2 linked regions of the Homo sapiens genome follow. The protein of the gene in region 2 purifies or fractionates together with the protein of the main gene of each other region. This does not show direct contact. Each region holds a gene or a part of one and is shown on either strand. Other genes may lie near its edges. The genes, in order: RAI14 and TEDC2.

What was found.
Region 1: the proteins of TEDC2 (region 2) and RAI14 purify together in Homo sapiens (affinity purification with mass spectrometry; one large-scale study listed by BioGRID and IntAct). This does not show direct contact.

The regions. Positions count from the first base shown.
Region 1 is NC_000005.10:34,809,749-34,813,558, reverse strand, and holds part of RAI14 (ankycorbin), read right to left. Parts: intron 2,548-3,810; coding exon 2,441-2,547; intron 1,793-2,440; coding exon 1,614-1,792; intron 1,380-1,613; coding exon 1,351-1,379; intron 1-1,350. UniProt on the Homo sapiens protein: Plays a role in actin regulation at the ectoplasmic specialization, a type of cell junction specific to testis. Important for establishment of sperm polarity and normal spermatid adhesion.
Region 2 is NC_000016.10:2,458,640-2,462,933, reverse strand, and holds the start of TEDC2 (tubulin epsilon and delta complex protein 2), read right to left. Parts: upstream 2,826-4,294; 5' UTR 2,790-2,825; coding exon 2,764-2,789; intron 2,652-2,763; coding exon 2,553-2,651; intron 2,312-2,552; coding exon 2,241-2,311; intron 2,119-2,240; coding exon 1,710-2,118; intron 1,188-1,709; coding exon 1,134-1,187; intron 786-1,133; coding exon 695-785; intron 520-694; coding exon 408-519; intron 304-407; coding exon 202-303; intron 1-201. UniProt on the Homo sapiens protein: Acts as a positive regulator of ciliary hedgehog signaling. Required for centriole stability.

The sequences.
Region 1 (3,810 bases), on a different chromosome or scaffold from region 2:
GTCCAAAGAATGGAGGTGGGTTAGTTTGGTTAGTAAAGTCTGGGCAAGTAGCTTTATCAAACACATGAGAAAAACCTCAAAAGTTCATACATTTCTTACTTTATCAAAATCTGAAATCTGCTACCAACATAAAAATAAATAATATGCATGCACAAGTATTCTCCTAGCAGCCCATGCTTTAATAGCAAGAAAATAAAAACACATGAGACAAAACCAGATTAGGTTGGTGTGGAGAACTGGGAAAGTAGAGGTTGAGGTCTACTACAACTTAGAATCCAGAATACAATCACAGCCAGCTTTCTGTATTAATGAAAAGCAATGGTATTTCCCACACGTCTGCATTACTTCCATTCCTTTTTTTAAAGACTATAAATATGAGGGAAAGGGATAACTTCATTTTTGAAGGTTACTGGTAAGTAATACAGTTAGCACATAAATTTAGTATTGAGTATTTGCTGTTTATGATTTCTTCAAGAACGTAGATGTGTAAATAAATAAACAACCAAACATATACTGTTCATCAAAAAAACAGATAGTGACAATATATTTTTAGAAAAAACTACACAATAACAGGGCAAACTCAATTTCTACTTTGTGTAACACCACATGACGTTCTAGAAAAACCCTAATTAAAAGAAAAGGCTAAATTCTCTTATTTTCATTAAATAGCTAACATTTTCTGGCTGAAGCTCTGTAGCTCATGTGATATTACAAGTATTTAAAACAGTGTTATTCAGTCACAGAGTTTAAGCCACATCAAACATTTTCACACCAATAGGAAGTATGAGTTAGTACATTTCAGAAAAAGATGAACATATAAGTAGCAAGTTTAAAGTTACATGCTTTTGAAATAAAGCAAATTATTAAGGAAAGCTTTACCACCTTTTTTTTTTGAGACGGAGTTTCACTCTTGTTGCCCAGGATGGAGTGCAATCGTGCAATCTCAGCTCACCGCAACCTCTGCCTCCTGGGTTCAAGTGATTCTCCTGCCTCAGCCTCCCGAGCAGCTGGGATTACAGGCACGCACCACCATGCCCGGCTAATATTGTAATATTAGTAGAGGCGGGGTTTCTCCATGTTGGTCAGGGTGGTCTTGAACTCCCGACCTCAGGTGATCCACCAGCCTCGGCCTCCCAAAGTGCTGGGATTACAGGCGTGAGCCACCGGCCCGGCCTGGCAACCTTTAACACCTTATAACAATGACTTATTTATTCAAAGATATTTCAGTCCCTAAGTATTTTCAATATAGTCTTTATTACTTTACTAGTGGACCAGAGTGGTTAAATCTGAACATTTTTAAATTCCCACAAGCATAAATGAAACATAGAAGCCTCCCCCAAAGATAAATACCTGCTTTGGTTTTGTTGGGGTCTTTAAATCTATAGAGGAAAAAGTGAAAAAAAGAACTATAAGAAGCATAATGATTCATATTCACTTTGGGTGGGGGGATACACACACATACACCATATACAATATTTTTTAACACTCCTTTTTTTTTCAAGAATATGTTTAAAAGAATAATAAAATATATCATATTGCACACATTCCTTTATCCTTTGGGGAAAATGGAGTGGATAAACTTAAAACAACATTGGCTATTTTCTTTTACATACCAGCATCCTGAGAGATTTTTGATAATAGAAGGCTTTGAATTCCTGCATTTTCTGAGAGTTTGGAATAATGTAAGGCATTGTATCCAAGAGAATCTACAAGGTTTAGGTCTGCACCCTTTTTAATTAAGGCTTCCACAGCGTTAGAGCTGCCAATCTCACAGGCCAGCATGAGAGCAGTTCTAAAGGAAAAAAGAGACACAAAATTAGTACTAAGAGAATGTAAAAAGTCTTTCTTGGGAAATCAGTTGTCTTAAAAAAAGAGAAAAGAAGATTAAGTGCAGTTAAACCTTTATTACACTTAATCTTCAGGGAATTCGAAGTGGAATGCAATCAAGATGAAATTAGGTGGTTTTTTTTTTTTTTAAACTTCAGATTAAATCAAAACATTAAACCACATTTTGTCAAACAACACAATCTTCTATACTATTTGGCATAATATGATGGGATTTAATATGACTGGCATGAATCTTATCCTTGTTTTACCTCAAGCATTTTAAATAACATATATATTTCTAAGACCATTTCTCCAAAACAACCAATAGGTTTGTTTTATTTTGCATAGAAAGTCACAGGAAATTGTTTATTCACATTAGCATTTAATAGTCTCCTCACAGACTTAGCCAGCAATGATGTCCACAGATGTCTGGGGAAAATTGCTTTAAAGTCAACATAGATTCTTGATTATCAGAAACAGTAGAACTTTAAAAAGGTAAGAAGTTAAAAATCCCTTATAACAAATGATCCAAAATATAGCTGTGATATTTTGAAATACTCTCAGAATGTGGGTATCACTGAAGTCACATGATTTCTGCCTAATTCTGGAGTACCTTCCACTTTTGTTCCTGGAATTGACATCTGCTCCATGATCCAGGAGAAAGTGACAGATCTCACTGTGACCATTTTGTACAGCAAGAAGCAGCGGTATATTCCCATCCTAGGAGACAAATTCAGATTTAGATTTTACCTCAGGCACAAAATGCCAGAATTGCAAAAGTCAGCCCCTGTTTTTTGCACATTTTTCTCCTGACTTGGACTGCTGACTGCTGATCTAGTATCTGGTCCAACCTGATATTCTGTACCCCTATAGAGTCACGATTGTATGTTGGCACAACTCTTGTTATGGAATTTTACTGAATGCTAGCTTTTACATAGGAGCTCCAGCTTCTTGCGGCTGCTTATGCCCTTGGCTATCACTGTTTGGGTGACTGTGAGAGAGGACAGAACACAAAGTGTGTAAAGGCTCAAGGCAAGTGTACCGGGTATACTGAGGGACGGTGCTGGAGAAAGGAAGGGCGTGTCTCCGCACGACACCAGAAGATCCCACTGCCCTGTAGGCAGCTTATTCCCAGTGCACTAATCATTATATATCCTGCCATTCCACTTTTACCGAAAGTGTACCCTTTAGTAATCTTGCTATGTATCAAAATATAACATAAATTAAGAGCCTATGTCTGTTACTAACACATGACTAGATAAAGAAATGGATAGAAAGAATAATTATGTCATGACAATTGCAACCCCTTTGGGAAAAAGGAAATCTAGGTCTCCAACTCATATACAAACTATGTCAGGTGGATTAAGCATTTAAACATTACAATATAAAACAAATGATGAAAAATACTAGAAGAATATACATAAGTATTTTTTGTAATCTTAGGTCTGACACAAACCATAAAGAGAAGTTGTTATTTTGTTTTTTTTCTGGAATATACCCTATAAATCCATCGACAGTGAGTTTTAAGGTAGAAGCATTCAATAGGCAAAGGGAAAAGATGTTACAATATATCCAACTATTTAAAAATACAAGTGCTACTTAAAGATTGAGTATTGTCATAAAGAATTTCAGATAGATTTCTGGGCACTATCTCTGTGAAGTTATACTACTTTCTGCTTAGGAAGTACTGAACTTCAAGGAATATGAATTTATTTACAGATTCTATCTAGTCACTTCACAGCATCTCCATCAAATATAAGTGTATGCATGTCAGTTCTCATGCTGCAACATGAAATATAACCCCATGACAGAACCATGTGATAGGTATATAAATTTATTCTCAAAGTAGCCTGGTGAAGTTAAAATAGCCTAGTAATGGTCTTCAAAGTTGGGAGATTCTACGTAGAAGTTATCCAAGTGCAGAAAGAAAGTAGTAAAATTTCTATTTAGACTTATTTTTAAAAATCAAGAAATTAAGCTTTA
Region 2 (4,294 bases):
GGAAGGCTGACTGCTCCCATAGGACGACTGGTGAGGACCCAGCACACTGGGGAGTGGCGTGGGAGGGGTGGAGGGGCCCACCAACTTGCATCTGGTCCCTGGGCTGCTCACCCTTCCCTGAGGCGCAGACAAGCCTGGCTAAAGCACCCTGTCCCCGGCCCAGACCTCAGTGCAGGTGGCAGGGTGGGGGCGGGGTCTCACCTGCACGCAGCTCCTGCAGCCTGTGCAGACACTGGCCCACCATGGCCTGCAGCCCCTCCAGCGTGAGCAGGCAGCGGTACTCCTGCATCCAGTCCATGGGGGCTGCAGAAGAGTCAGGGAGAGCAGGTGGGGCCCGTGGCAGTCTGGAAACCCTCCCTGCACTGGCCCTCCACACTCCTCCTGATACAGACCCAGGACCCACTGACCTGCCGAGAGCTCCTCCCTCATGCGCAGTCTCAGCAGCGAGCAGGCCTTCCGCAGGCGCCCCGCCTCCGCCTCCACCTCCACAGCACTGAGCCTGGGCTGGGGCCCGCCTGACTGGATATGGGTCAGGAAAACTTCCCTGCAGCCAAAGCCCCTCTGCTCCCACCAAGAACGGGGCCTGGGGAGTGGCCCTGGCCATCCCACGCCAGCCCCTCCTGGGGCTGCTCTGCAAACCTGCCAGGTTCAGAGCTAGAGGCCCCCAGGGCTCCCACAAGCCCAGCAAGGATACAGCTGTCTGCATGTTCTGGAGGAACTGGGTTTTGGCAGCGGCGGCATCCGTGGAATCACTGGTCTGTGTGGAACTGAGCTGGGCCCACAGGCTGGGGTGCACACGTGGGGTGCACAGAGGAACCACAGAGGGACACGGTTATTCCAGCCAGTAAGCTGGGCCTTGGGAGGTAGGCAAGGGCCAGGGTGGGGACCCCAGGCTGGGCGTCTGGCTCTGCTGAATGCCAGGAGGGGCCTCCAGAGGCCGCAGGGAACCAAGAGGACACTGACTAGGACAAGGGGACAAAGCTGACCGGCTGGCAGATTTTTAACATCGACAGTGATCCCACTCAGCAAAGAGGACAAAGAGACCCACTGGAAAGTATCTCGAACCTGTCCCCGAGCTGGTGATGCCTCCCGGTTCTCCCCTACCCCCGTCCAGCCAAAGACCTCAGCCTCACCTCGAGTTCTGGGAAGCTGCTTTCCTGAATGCCGCAGGCAGCCGCAGCAGGTGCCTGTCGGAGAAGCCCGTGTTCAGAGGAGCATCGCCTTGCTCTGGGGTCTACAAGTCCCACTTCCTGCTCAGAGCCCAATCAGGGATGAGGCTTCTTGCCCCTCTCCCACACCCGACCCCACCAAGGATGAGCCCCCTTGGATAGGGCTTCCAGAGTGGCCATAGGAGAAGCATCGTCCAGTGCTGCCCCATTAGAGAGAAGAGGGGGCCCTGTGAGCGGGGCCCTGTGAGCAGATCCCACGCCCTCCAGAGCCCATCTGGAGCCTCTGGCCTGGGCAAATAAGGGGACAGCCACAGAGAAGAGAGGAGGACAGGCTCCAGTACTTCCCTGACCTGATGGTGCCAACCTGGACACCACCACACAGCTGCTTCATTCTGCCAGCTTCTGAGCATGAGCCTCAGGGGTATGCCACAGGGCTCGATGCCCTGCCTTCCCTGTCACCCCAAATCCCAGGCTCCTTGCTAGCCAGGGTCTGAGGAGGCAGAGACAGAAGTCCCTCCAGTGAGGGTCCGGGAAACCTACCCCTTCTCCTTGAGTGTGAAGGCTTCTGGGGCCTGAGGAGCAGCGGATGGGGCCATTTGCTGGTCCCTGAGGCCCGCCCCAGGCCTGGGGGTTCGGGCTCCCATCCCAACACGGGTCCCATCCCCCACTGACAGCAGCCGGCGCTCAGGGTGGCCCTTGGCAGGCACCGTGGTCTGGCGGAGGCCCTTGGTGGGTCTCGTGTCTGAAGCATGGCCACCAGCTTGGCCTGGGGAATGCGGTGGGGCGGAGGCTGTCGTGCCAGAAGAGGTGACAATGGACCTAGATTTCAGGCTGGGGGCCTTGTCTCTCTCTCCGGCCTTAGTGATGCCTCTTCGAACTCGTACAGCCTTCTCCAGTGCCTGGGTCAGAAACTCCAACTCTTTGAGGTCTTGTGGACTGGGTGTGCATGCTGTGAAAGCCAAGAATTATGCAGGGATCTCTCCCCACTGTCCCCCAGGAGGGTTCCTCACAACTGCACGCCAGCAGACAGGCCAGAGCAGCACCTGGAGAAGGCGGGTGGTGGAGGTTTACCTGGAAGGGGGTCCTCTCCATTAGTTTCTGGCCCTGGAGGTGGCTTCAAAGCCCGGGTCCCAGTTGGTTCCCTGCAAAGACACGGGCAGCCGTCGCACGGCCAGGAGGCAGGGCCCAGCCCAAACAGACCCGAGGGGGCCGCCGGGCCCCGCGGCAGGCCCCCAGCTCAGAGCCTGCAGGGTAAGGAGGGTGGCACTGACAACCCACAGCTCCGAAGTGGGCGGCTGCGCCCGGTCTCCCAGCCCTGGGCGCTCGGGGCGGGACTCTGAGGGCCCGAGGGAGGTCTGGCCAGTGGGTCCGGGGTCCGCGTACCAGGCATGCAGCAGCCGACGGCAAACGCGCAGGCTCTGCTCCAATTGCAATTGTCGCTGTGCGCAGGCGTCCAGGGCGCCCTGCAGCTCGGCCACCAGCCTGGGGGACGCACCGGCGGCTCAGCACCTCGGCCAGCGTCGGGCCTCGGGCCCCGCGCCTGGCTACCGGCCCGCCCGCATCCTCCCACCCCCTCCTGCCGCGCAGGCCTCACCGGCGCGAGCAGCCCGCCGGCAGCATGAAGGCGGCGGCGTCTCCTTGCAATTTGCCGCCTCTGAAGAGCCACGCCCCTTCCGGGAGGGAAGGCCGCCCCTTCCCGGCCGGGCTGCCCAATCCTGAACCGGGGCTCAGGGGCCGCCCCCGAAGCTTTCTCTCCCTCCTTGCGGGCAAGCCTCAAGCCCCGCCCACTCCTGCCTCCCAGGTCTGACGGGGACTCCGGCTCGGAGCTGGGCCCCCGAGGCCGCCAGGGAGGTGACTGCGGGCGACGCCGGGATTTTGGTTTGGGTAACTGGGTAGATGGGGGCGCCATTATCGCGCTTCTCTTGCAGGGGGCCGGTGAAGGTTATACGAGAGGCTCCATCTGTCCTTATTGAAAGTGCTCTTAACGCAGGGACCAGCCGTCTTGCTGACGCCTGGGCCACCGAGCACAGGGACAGGACGGGGTTGCTGGAGGTGAGGATTCCGCGTGTCAGGGGCGGGGATGAAGGAGGAGAAAGTGTTCACTTTTGGACATGTGACGTGATAGCACTGGGCAGAGGGGAGGAAGCTCAGACCTTGGAGCAGTGGGCCAGGCGAGGTGGCCCCTGGTGGGGCAGGGGACGGGTAGGGACAGATCACGGGGCCCACGCAATGGCCAGGGAGGTGGAGGAGCAGTAGGACAGTGTCACAGAGGCAACAGGAGGCTGTCACGGGAGGGAGTGGGTCACAGGCCAAGTGCTGCTGAGGCCTCGGCGGTGTACACAGCACAGCAGGGGGGCGGGGGTACAGGGCCTTCGGTGATGCGGGGGACACCTGAGGGAGGAAGTGAGGAAGGCAGCAGGGCCCCATGTAGTTGGTGTTAACAAGAATAAACAATTAGGGGGCAAGAAATCCCAGGCGGTAGCTGAAAGAAAAACAGAGCCTGGGGTTGCTGTTTAAAGATGGGACAGGTGAGTCCATTCCATAGTCGTTAATGGGAAGGTGCCATCGCAGAGGGGAAGGAGGGCACAAAGGGAGTTGTCAGGGAGGTTGGGACCCAGGCAGCTCTGGCCCAGCGCTCCGGGTGGGCCCCTCCATCAGCGGTGGGGGAGGGTGACGGTGGCCCTGCCTCCCTGGAGATTCTCTGTGAAGGAGGAGGCAGGGAAATGCTCAGTCAGCAGGTGGGTGATGCAGGAACCCACCCACCACAGGCAGGCGGGGCCAGGTCCCCCTGGAGTGGTTTCCTCCTTCAGGTGCAAGCTGGGAGAAAGCAGAGAACTGACTCCATGCAGAGTTGGGATTAAGAGCCCCTGGACAAGGGGCCGAGGCAGTGAAGGACGTCCATCACTCATCTGCCACTATCCTCCTCACATTTAATCCTCACAACACCCCTGTGAGGTAGGTATCATTGCCCCCCTTACAGATGAGGAAACTGAGGCTCACACATGCCCAGGGGCACACAGTCGACAGGACGGGTCTACAGTTCCAACGCTTGGGTTCTCACCCCGACCACACCCCACCCAGGGTGGCCAGAATTCCCTTATAGTAGCAAAAAGACAGCTGCCGCG